Linked DNA regions of Homo sapiens: region 2 is linked to region 1. A link means that fine-mapping ties the variant in region 1 to the expression of a gene that starts in the linked region. Tissue or cell type: lung. Region 1 holds a variant in brackets; the other region holds the start of a gene. All regions are shown on one strand. Distances are from middle to middle.

The links. PIP is the estimated chance that this variant, and not a neighbour inherited with it, causes the effect.
Region 2: it holds the start of IMPA1, and the variant in region 1 is the best candidate, but not a certain one, in a credible set for the expression of IMPA1 in lung (TOPMed, PIP 0.56).

The regions. Positions count from the first base shown.
Region 1 is chr8:81,605,823-81,610,075 of GRCh38, forward strand. It overlaps the pseudogene IMPA1P1. Among named protein-coding and RNA genes, the nearest start is that of FABP12, 74 kb to the left of the region's middle. The variant A/G (reference allele first, on the strand shown) is at 1,714.
Region 2 is chr8:81,684,648-81,688,900 of GRCh38, forward strand. It overlaps IMPA1 (inositol monophosphatase 1), which reads right to left and starts at 1,678. Exons shown (of 9, transcript NM_005536.4): 1 at 1,605-1,678. RefSeq lists an enhancer at 1,424-1,924.

The DNA.
Region 1 (4,253 bases):
ACAATGTTTAAGCTTTGGCAATCCATAGCTGAGTTTCTAAGTATATGTTTTTTAAAATACCAGTTTTTTGGTATTTACTGGCAAGGTTGGTGGGGGAGAGAGGGAGTCTCAAGTCATGCTAGTCTGAAAATGTCATCTATTCTCTATTTCTTTGTTTGTGTGTGTGTGTGTGTATATACACTGTTATTACCTCTTTACTGTTTAAGAATCTATGGACAGAAAATGTGACTCCAATTAATTTTCATACCACTATCCTTCCCATTTCCTTATTTCTTTGTTGCCTTTCTCTCAGATCACTGGTGAATTCTTTGAACCCAGGTTCACTCTTCACTTCAAAAATTTCACCATCAGCTCAAAGCAAATATTTAACTTCTCTAGTCCCAACACAGAAGGTGATGGTGGAGGACTGAAGTCAATCATCAACTATCACAATGGTCAGCATTCAAAGAACTCTAAATACAAGCCTCAGAGTCAGTGACTCTCTAGGCTTTCTCAACAGCCTTTCAGGAGTTCCTATTACTCACATTTGAAAAGGCTTAGCCATTTATCACTATCAGTCCCATATTGCCATTAGTTCTCATCCTTGCCTCTATCTCCTAATGTTTATTTTGATTTTGCACAAAATTATATAGCCTGTTTGTCTTAAAATCCAAGCTATCATATGTATCAAACTTTTTTTAAACTCCATATACAGAGGAAAGTCCAAGAGATGTAAAGGGAAAAATGATTCACTATCTCATAATTTTACCAGTAACATCCATTAGCACGCCACCAGCTTCAGTAACAATAATGGCAGCTACTGCAATATCCCAGCAGTGAATTCCCATTTCATAAAATGCCTCTGCTCCTCCACTTGCCGCAATGCACATATTAGTAGCTGCTGTTCCAACACTCTGGATCCTCAAAAATAGTATTCAAAAATGGCAGATTGAAAAAATAACCTTTCAAGTAAGGTATTCCTCCTAACTTCAGTTTGAATGTTGATTGAGATAAGTTGAACCAATCTAGAGAATAAATGTAAAAAAAGATGGTATTTAATCTTAAAATAAAAATATATAAAATCCAGTTATCGTGATATACTATATAAATCCCAAAACTAATCCTCACAAAGCAATAATTTAATAAGATAAACATGAAAGCAATAATTTTGCAGAAAAAAAGCCCTAAAAATAATGCTATAATTCTACTATAACAGCATGCAAATATATTCATATTTTTTTAAACCCAAGGCAACCACAGCTTATTTTACACAGATACACACACACATGCACACATACACAATGCACAATAATCTCTAGGGAGCATAAAGTATCATGATATTGATCATTCCCAACTGGATGTGCATCATATCTAGACCTAAAGGGATTGCAACCCACCTGGGTTCTGCACAAACCTAGGCCTCTCTTGAAAGATTACTACAGGTTTTTCCTCTCATAGCACCTCTTCCTTGAAAATACAGCAAGGTAAGATGAATGTGTAAGATATAAGTAAGAATAAGTAAGATACTACTTGATAGCAATTATAGTAATAACTTATTCAGTAAAGAATCATCAGCCGGGCGTGGTGGCTCACACCTGTAATCCCAGCACTTTGGGAGGCCAAGGTGGGCAGATCACAAGGTCAGGAGACCGAGACCATCCTGGCTAACACGGTGAAACCCCATCTCTACTAAAAATATATATTAAAAAGAATTAGCCAGGCGTTGTTGCGGGC[A/G]CCTGTAGTCCCAGCTACTCAGGAGGCTGAGGCAGAAGAATGGCGTGAACCTGGGAGGCAGAGCTTGCAGTGAGCCAAGATCGAGCCACTACACTCCAGCCTGGGCAACAGAGCAAGACTCCATCTCAAAAAAAAAAATCATCAATAAATGTTAAAATTAATGGGTAAAAGTTTGATATTTTTGGTATCAAAGTATCTCTCCACAAGATATATAATAAGTACAGTGAGGAAAAAATAGCATTTTTACAATGATCTATCTACCATTACCAAGTAATCAAAGTTAATATCACCCATAATAGGACAAAAAGATACCATGTGCCTCCTGATATGATGCACTGAGAAGTACAGAACATTACTTCTGTGACATTCCTGCCAAAAATTCATAATCCAAATGTAATCATAAATAAACTAGACAAATTCAAATCAAGAGATAGACCACGAAATAATTGGCCTATACTTTTGAAAAATGTCAAGGTCATAAAAGATAAAGAAAGACCAAGCAAGTTATAAATTAAAGGAAACTGAAGAGAAATGAGAACTAAATGCAATCAATGTATGAGTCTGGATTGGACATTGGGTTAAAATTTTTTTCAAAATTTGAATAAAGTCTTTATATTAGATTATGTATCAATGTTAATTTCCTGACTTTTATAATTGTGCTGTGGCTGTGTTAGACAATGTTCCTTTTTATTAAAGAAATACACACTGAAATGTGTTTTTAGAAGAAAAAGATCATTATGTCTGCAAGTTAATTGCAAATGGTTTCTATTCAAACTCCTTTTGTGACTGTTTAAAGCTCTGGAAATAAAGCAGTGGGTTCTATTTACCAAGATCTTTCCCAGTTTATTTTTTTAAAAAGTAATGATAAATTGATTACAAATGTGGTATTTATTTTGTATTGTATTGTAAAAAATATTGCACCTAAGTACATCCTTCATCTCAAAGGGACTTTTTAAAAAAAGGATTAGAATGATATAATGTCTTTGATTTGGAATTTTTTCCTGCCTATGTTTTTGCTGCACATCTAATTTAAGAAAGAACTAGGAGGTGCAATAAATTTCCAAGATGTTTGTTTCCCAAATGCATGAAATCAAATTAGCTTTTGTGGCATTTTTTCAGTTATAAAGAAAGATGTGTTTCTCCCCTTTTCATATGAGATATGTGATAGCTGATATCTCATATTATAGAAAGCAAAGACCAAGATCTTCTACAAGTAATCCCTTAGTATTCTATTCAGAGAATCCTAGGCTAGCAGAACAACAGTGATAGCAACTAGTGGTGCTTCCATCACTTCTAATGCACATCATGGGATCTCAGGCAAGGAGTCTTGTAGTCAGCTAGAGCATATATTTTGTGAGCAAATATTACCAAAGAGATTACTTATATTACCAGGTAATTAAGGCTATGGTATAGATTCTACAATGTGCCTTCTGAATCCTATCTTAATCTGATCCTCCTATACAGCTAATAGGGTATATCATAAAAAAGCCTATGTTTGGGGTCACAAAGAGTTGAGTTTGTTCCATGCTCAGCTGCTTAAAAACCCTAATCTGGGCCAGGCATGGTGGCTTATGCCTGTAATCCCAGCACTTTGGGAGGCCAAGGAGAGTGGATCACCTGAGGTCAGGTGTTTGAGATCAGCCTGGCCAACATGGTGAAACCCTGTCTCTACTAAAAATACAAAATTAGCCTAGTGTGGTGGCACATGCCTGTAATCCCAGCTACTTGGGAGGCTGAGGCAGGAGAATTGCTTGAACCCAGGAGGTGGAGGTTGCAGTGAGCCGAGATCACACCACTGCACTCCAGCCTGAGCAACAAGAGTGAAACTCCATCACAAAAAACAAAAAAACAAATCTGGACCAAGTTTCTTCTTTGAGTTTTAGCTTTCTTGTCATCAAATAGGGATACCAATTTGCCTTAGATCACTGTTACAATAACTACAAATAATATTTGTAAAGCACCAAAAGAGTGCCTGCCATATAAAAGATACATAATAAAAAGTAGCTATGTTTATGACAAAATTATTCTCAAAAGATGATGCCAGAAAATATATACCAGGTACATTTCATCTAATTAAATTTTGAAAAATTAAAGGAAATTGAGCCACAATAATTGTTGTCTTAAAAATATTTGTTCCTAGTCAGGAACCTATTAGACTGTTTCTGCTTGTTTAAAGCATTCATTCAGATTATGACTCCCTTTAGTTTCATTGTTTTGTATAAGTAACTCTGAAATCACATTGCTAAACTAAAGAAGCAGCTGAATGCAAAAGATCTTAAATCAATGTCAGAACTTCTCCTTGGTAATATTTCCCTGGTTACACTTCTGAAAAAATCCTGAAGTAAAAATTAGTTTTTACTTTATCCAACAGCAAAATTAAAGGTTAAAATTGTAAACCTCTTGCAGCTCTTTTATGACTAACATAACCATTTTATAGCCCATGGTTACAGTCCTTGCTTCAAGACAGCACACTGTAGCAATAAGTTTATTGCCCTTCCCTCAAGGACATCATTCTGGGAGGTTCTGTAGCTATTTGACAG
Region 2 (4,253 bases), 79 kb after region 1:
AAGTATATATACTACACATAAGTATATTTAGATACTATGTGGAGTATAAATACTACACATAAGTATATTTAGATACTATGTGGAGTATATATACTACACATAAGTATATTTAGATACTATGTGGAGTATATATACTACACATAAGTATATTTAGATACTATGTGGAGTATATATACTATACATAGTATCTATGTGTAGTATATATACTATACATAAGTATATTTAGATACTATGTATAGTATATATACTATACATAAGTATATTTAGATACTATGTATAGTATATATACTATACATAAGTATATTTAGATACTATGTATAGTATATATACTATACATAAGTATATTTAGATACTATATATACTATACGTAAGTATATTTAGATACTATATATAGTATATATACTATACATAAGTATATTTAGATATATATACTATAAATAAGTATATTTAGATACTATATATAGTATACATTAAGTATATTTAGATACTATATATAGTATATATACTATACATAAGTATATTTAGATACTATATATACTATACATAAGTATATTTAGATACTATATATACTATACATAAGTATATTTAGATACTATATATACTATACATAAGTATAGATACTATATATAGTATATATAGTATATATACTATACATAGTATATTTATGTACTATACATATAGTATATTTATATACTATATGTAAGTATATATGTAAGTATATTTATGTACTATATATAAGTATATATACCTAAGTATATTTAGGTACTATATATAAGTATGTATACCTAAGTATATTTCTGTACTATATATAAGTATATATACCTAAGTATATTTCTGTACTATATATAAGTATATATACGTAAGTATATTTCTGTACTATATATAAGTATATATACGTAAGTATATTTATGTACTATATATAAGTATACAGAAGTATATTTATGTACTATATATAAGTATATATACTATACATAAGTATATTTATGTACTATATATAAAGTATATAAGTACATTTTATATATATTTTTATATATAGTTATATATAATATATGAATAGTTATATATATATAAATCACAGTACATTTATTGATGGGCAGGGTCCGTAGTTTACTCACTTTCATTTTCCCAAAGCCATAAACACCTGAACTGTTTCCTGCTGTTTCTGTCCTGGTCACAGCCTTCCAGCGTAGGAGCCAGGCCACCTTCCTTTTTGCCACCTGTCCCAGCACCGCGACTGCGGGCAGCACAGGACCTGGGCGCTGCCCCATCACTTAGAGTGACTACCTGGGCCTGGGGATGCACCAAGTTTCTAGGAGCTTTTCGGAGTTGGGGACATAAAAAGGGGCAATTATTCCACAGAAGCCGCCACAGAGGTTAAGTGAGGTCGCGTGAGCGAACCGCTACTCCAATGCCGGAACTGTTCCCGGTCGCCCAGGGCAGCTCCGGATAACGCAGCAGGCAGGGGTCACCCAGAGGCTGCCTCCACCCTAGGCGCCGACCGCGCACGGCGCTCGCGCCCGCTCCTGAGGAGGGAAGGGGCCTCCCTGGAAACCCACAGCGCCCGCTGAACCCGGAGGGTGCGGTGAGGAAAATAACGGTCTCACCTTGAGTCGGAGGACGTCCGGCTAGCTCTGTGAACGGTGTTACCGCACTCGTCTCTTCCGGAGGTAGAGGGGCTACTCGCAACAGGAAGTTCCGCCCTTAAAAACTCCATTCCTGAGGGGGCGTGGTTGCTTTGCTGGGCCCCGCCCCGAGCTGCGCCCTGCGAGCCTCTGCCAGGCCGGGCCGGGTCCTGACCCGCGCTGGAGCATGGGATACTGCCTCTTCATTCTAGCTTCTGGTTCTTTTCTCCTGCTTGTCTTTTCATCTCTCAGTTTTTAAACATTACTTCTCTCTTTACTTTGCCTTTTTCTTCTTTCGTCCTCCATTCATTCACGGTTTCCCATTTAGCTTGCTTTCTTCTTTCTCCCATTTATTCTATAGTACTATTTTGACAAAACCCAGATTGCAGATATGATTCCGATTATGCAGCTTTTAGGTGCTAACCTAAAGCTGGTAAACCTATACTAGATTAAAAAAAAATAAACTGATAACCAGAACCAACTGCCCAATTCTTGATAATTTACTTACATACTATTTATTGAGGACTTACTATGCTTCAAGCAATTGTGTGGGGTTTTATTGTTTTGTTTTTTTGAGACGGAATTTCACTTTTGTCGCCCGGGCTGAAGTGCAATGGCGCGATCTCGGCTCACTGCAACGTCCGCCTCTTGGATTCAAGCGATTCTCATGCCTCAGCCTCCTGAGTAGCTGGGATTACAGACGCCTGCCACAACGCCCGGCTAATTTTTGTATCTTGTAGAGACGGGGTTTCACCATGTTGCTCAGGCTGGTCTCAAACTCCTGGACTCAAGTGATCCGCCTACCTCGGCCTCCCAAAGATTACAGGCATGAGCCACCACGCCTGGCCGAAATGTGTTTTTATATGCATTATTTTCCTTAAAGTTTTAACAGTTTCTTGAAAAAGGTATGATTAGCTTTGTCAGACAGATGAGGAAACTGAGGCTCAGAGTAGTTAAGTGATTTGTCCTCAGGTCACACAGCAAGAGCAGAGAGTGAAACACACTGAGTTCAAAGTTTTGGGGTTCAGAAAATGATACCCCACAATGAAGGCCTCAGAAGCAGCCTTAGAAGGAAAAATTTTCCTCTGACTCCTTTTGGTCTCCTGTCTCTGGTCCCACATTCTTCCCCAGACTAGTCATAGAAGCTAGAATTCCTCTTTCCCAAATCAGGTCCCAGAAATCAGGACCCCTTTTTTATAAAGCCAGCCATAAAACATAAAAATACTACTCTAGGCCAGGCAAGGTGGCTCACGCCTGTAATCCCACCACTTTGGGAGGCCAAGGCAGGCGGATCACGAGGTCAGGAGATCGAGACCGTCCTGGCTAACACGGTGAAGCCCCGTTTCTATTAAAAACACAAAAAAATTAGCCGGGTGTGGTGGCTGGCACCTGCAGTCCCAGCTACTCGGGAGGCTGAGGCAGGAGAATGGCATGAACCTGGGAGGTGGAGCTTCCAGTGAGTGGAGATCGCGCCACTGCACTCCAGCCTGGGCGACAGAGGGAGCCTCCGTCTCAAAAAAAAAATATATATATATAGAGAGAGAGATATAGATAGATAGATAGATAGATAGATAGATAGATAGATAGATAGATAGATAGATATTACTCTAGCATTCTCCCTGTGTTTCTATGTAAAATCTGACCACGAAGAAATTATATGACTCACCCTGTCTGAGTTTAGGTCATAAGACCCCCATTCCAAAGAGGGTCCTATGGAGAGAGGCCAAGAAGAATCTAAGCAGACAGGTCTTACTGGATTTCCCCAGTCTAATAGCATTAGGTTATACCCTCTTTGTCCAACCATATTCTACACAGCTGTCCATATGCTGTTGAAACTAAGCATAAAATGGACTGTCCCCTTATACCTTTGGGTCTTCATTCTGAAGGCTCCCAAGTCACATAAAACTATGATCAAATAAAATCCTTTTCTTCTATTTATCTGCCTTTTGTCAGTTGATTTTCACCAAACCTTCAGAGGACAAAAGGGAAGTTTTTTCTTTGGCCCTACAAAAGTTTACACACTGAGAATATATGGCACAATGAGATCACATTATATGAGGTACAAGGACTAGTTATGGTCTTAAAATGTTTCTTCTTCTTGAAAGAGTTGGCCAGGTGCAGTGGCTCATGCCTGTAATCCCATCACTTTGGGAGGCCAAGGCAGGCAGATCACCTGAGGTCAGAAGTTCAAGACCAGCCTGGTCAACATGGTGAAACTCTGTCTCTACTAAAAATACAAAAATTAGCCAGGCATGGTGGTGGGTGCCTGTAATCCCAGCTACGAGGGAGGCTGAGGCAGGAGAATCGTTTGAACCCCGGAGGTGGAGGTTGAAGTGAGCCGAGATAGCGCCATTGCACTCCAGCCTGGGTAACAAAAGTGAAACTCCATCTCAAAAAAGAAAGAAAGAAAGAAAGAAAGAAAGAGCGACATCGTGGTACATACACCATCATAGTGCAAAAAGCATTGCACAGATATAAGATGTCCTAGCTACAACTGGACCAGGAAAGTAAGTTAGTTATTTGGCTCTTTGCTTAGGAAGTTACTGTTTCTGTTTGTTTAATCAAAAGACAAAATGTCACCAATATATTTCAAATGAAATGTCTTAGAGATGAGTAATTTGGACTGGACTC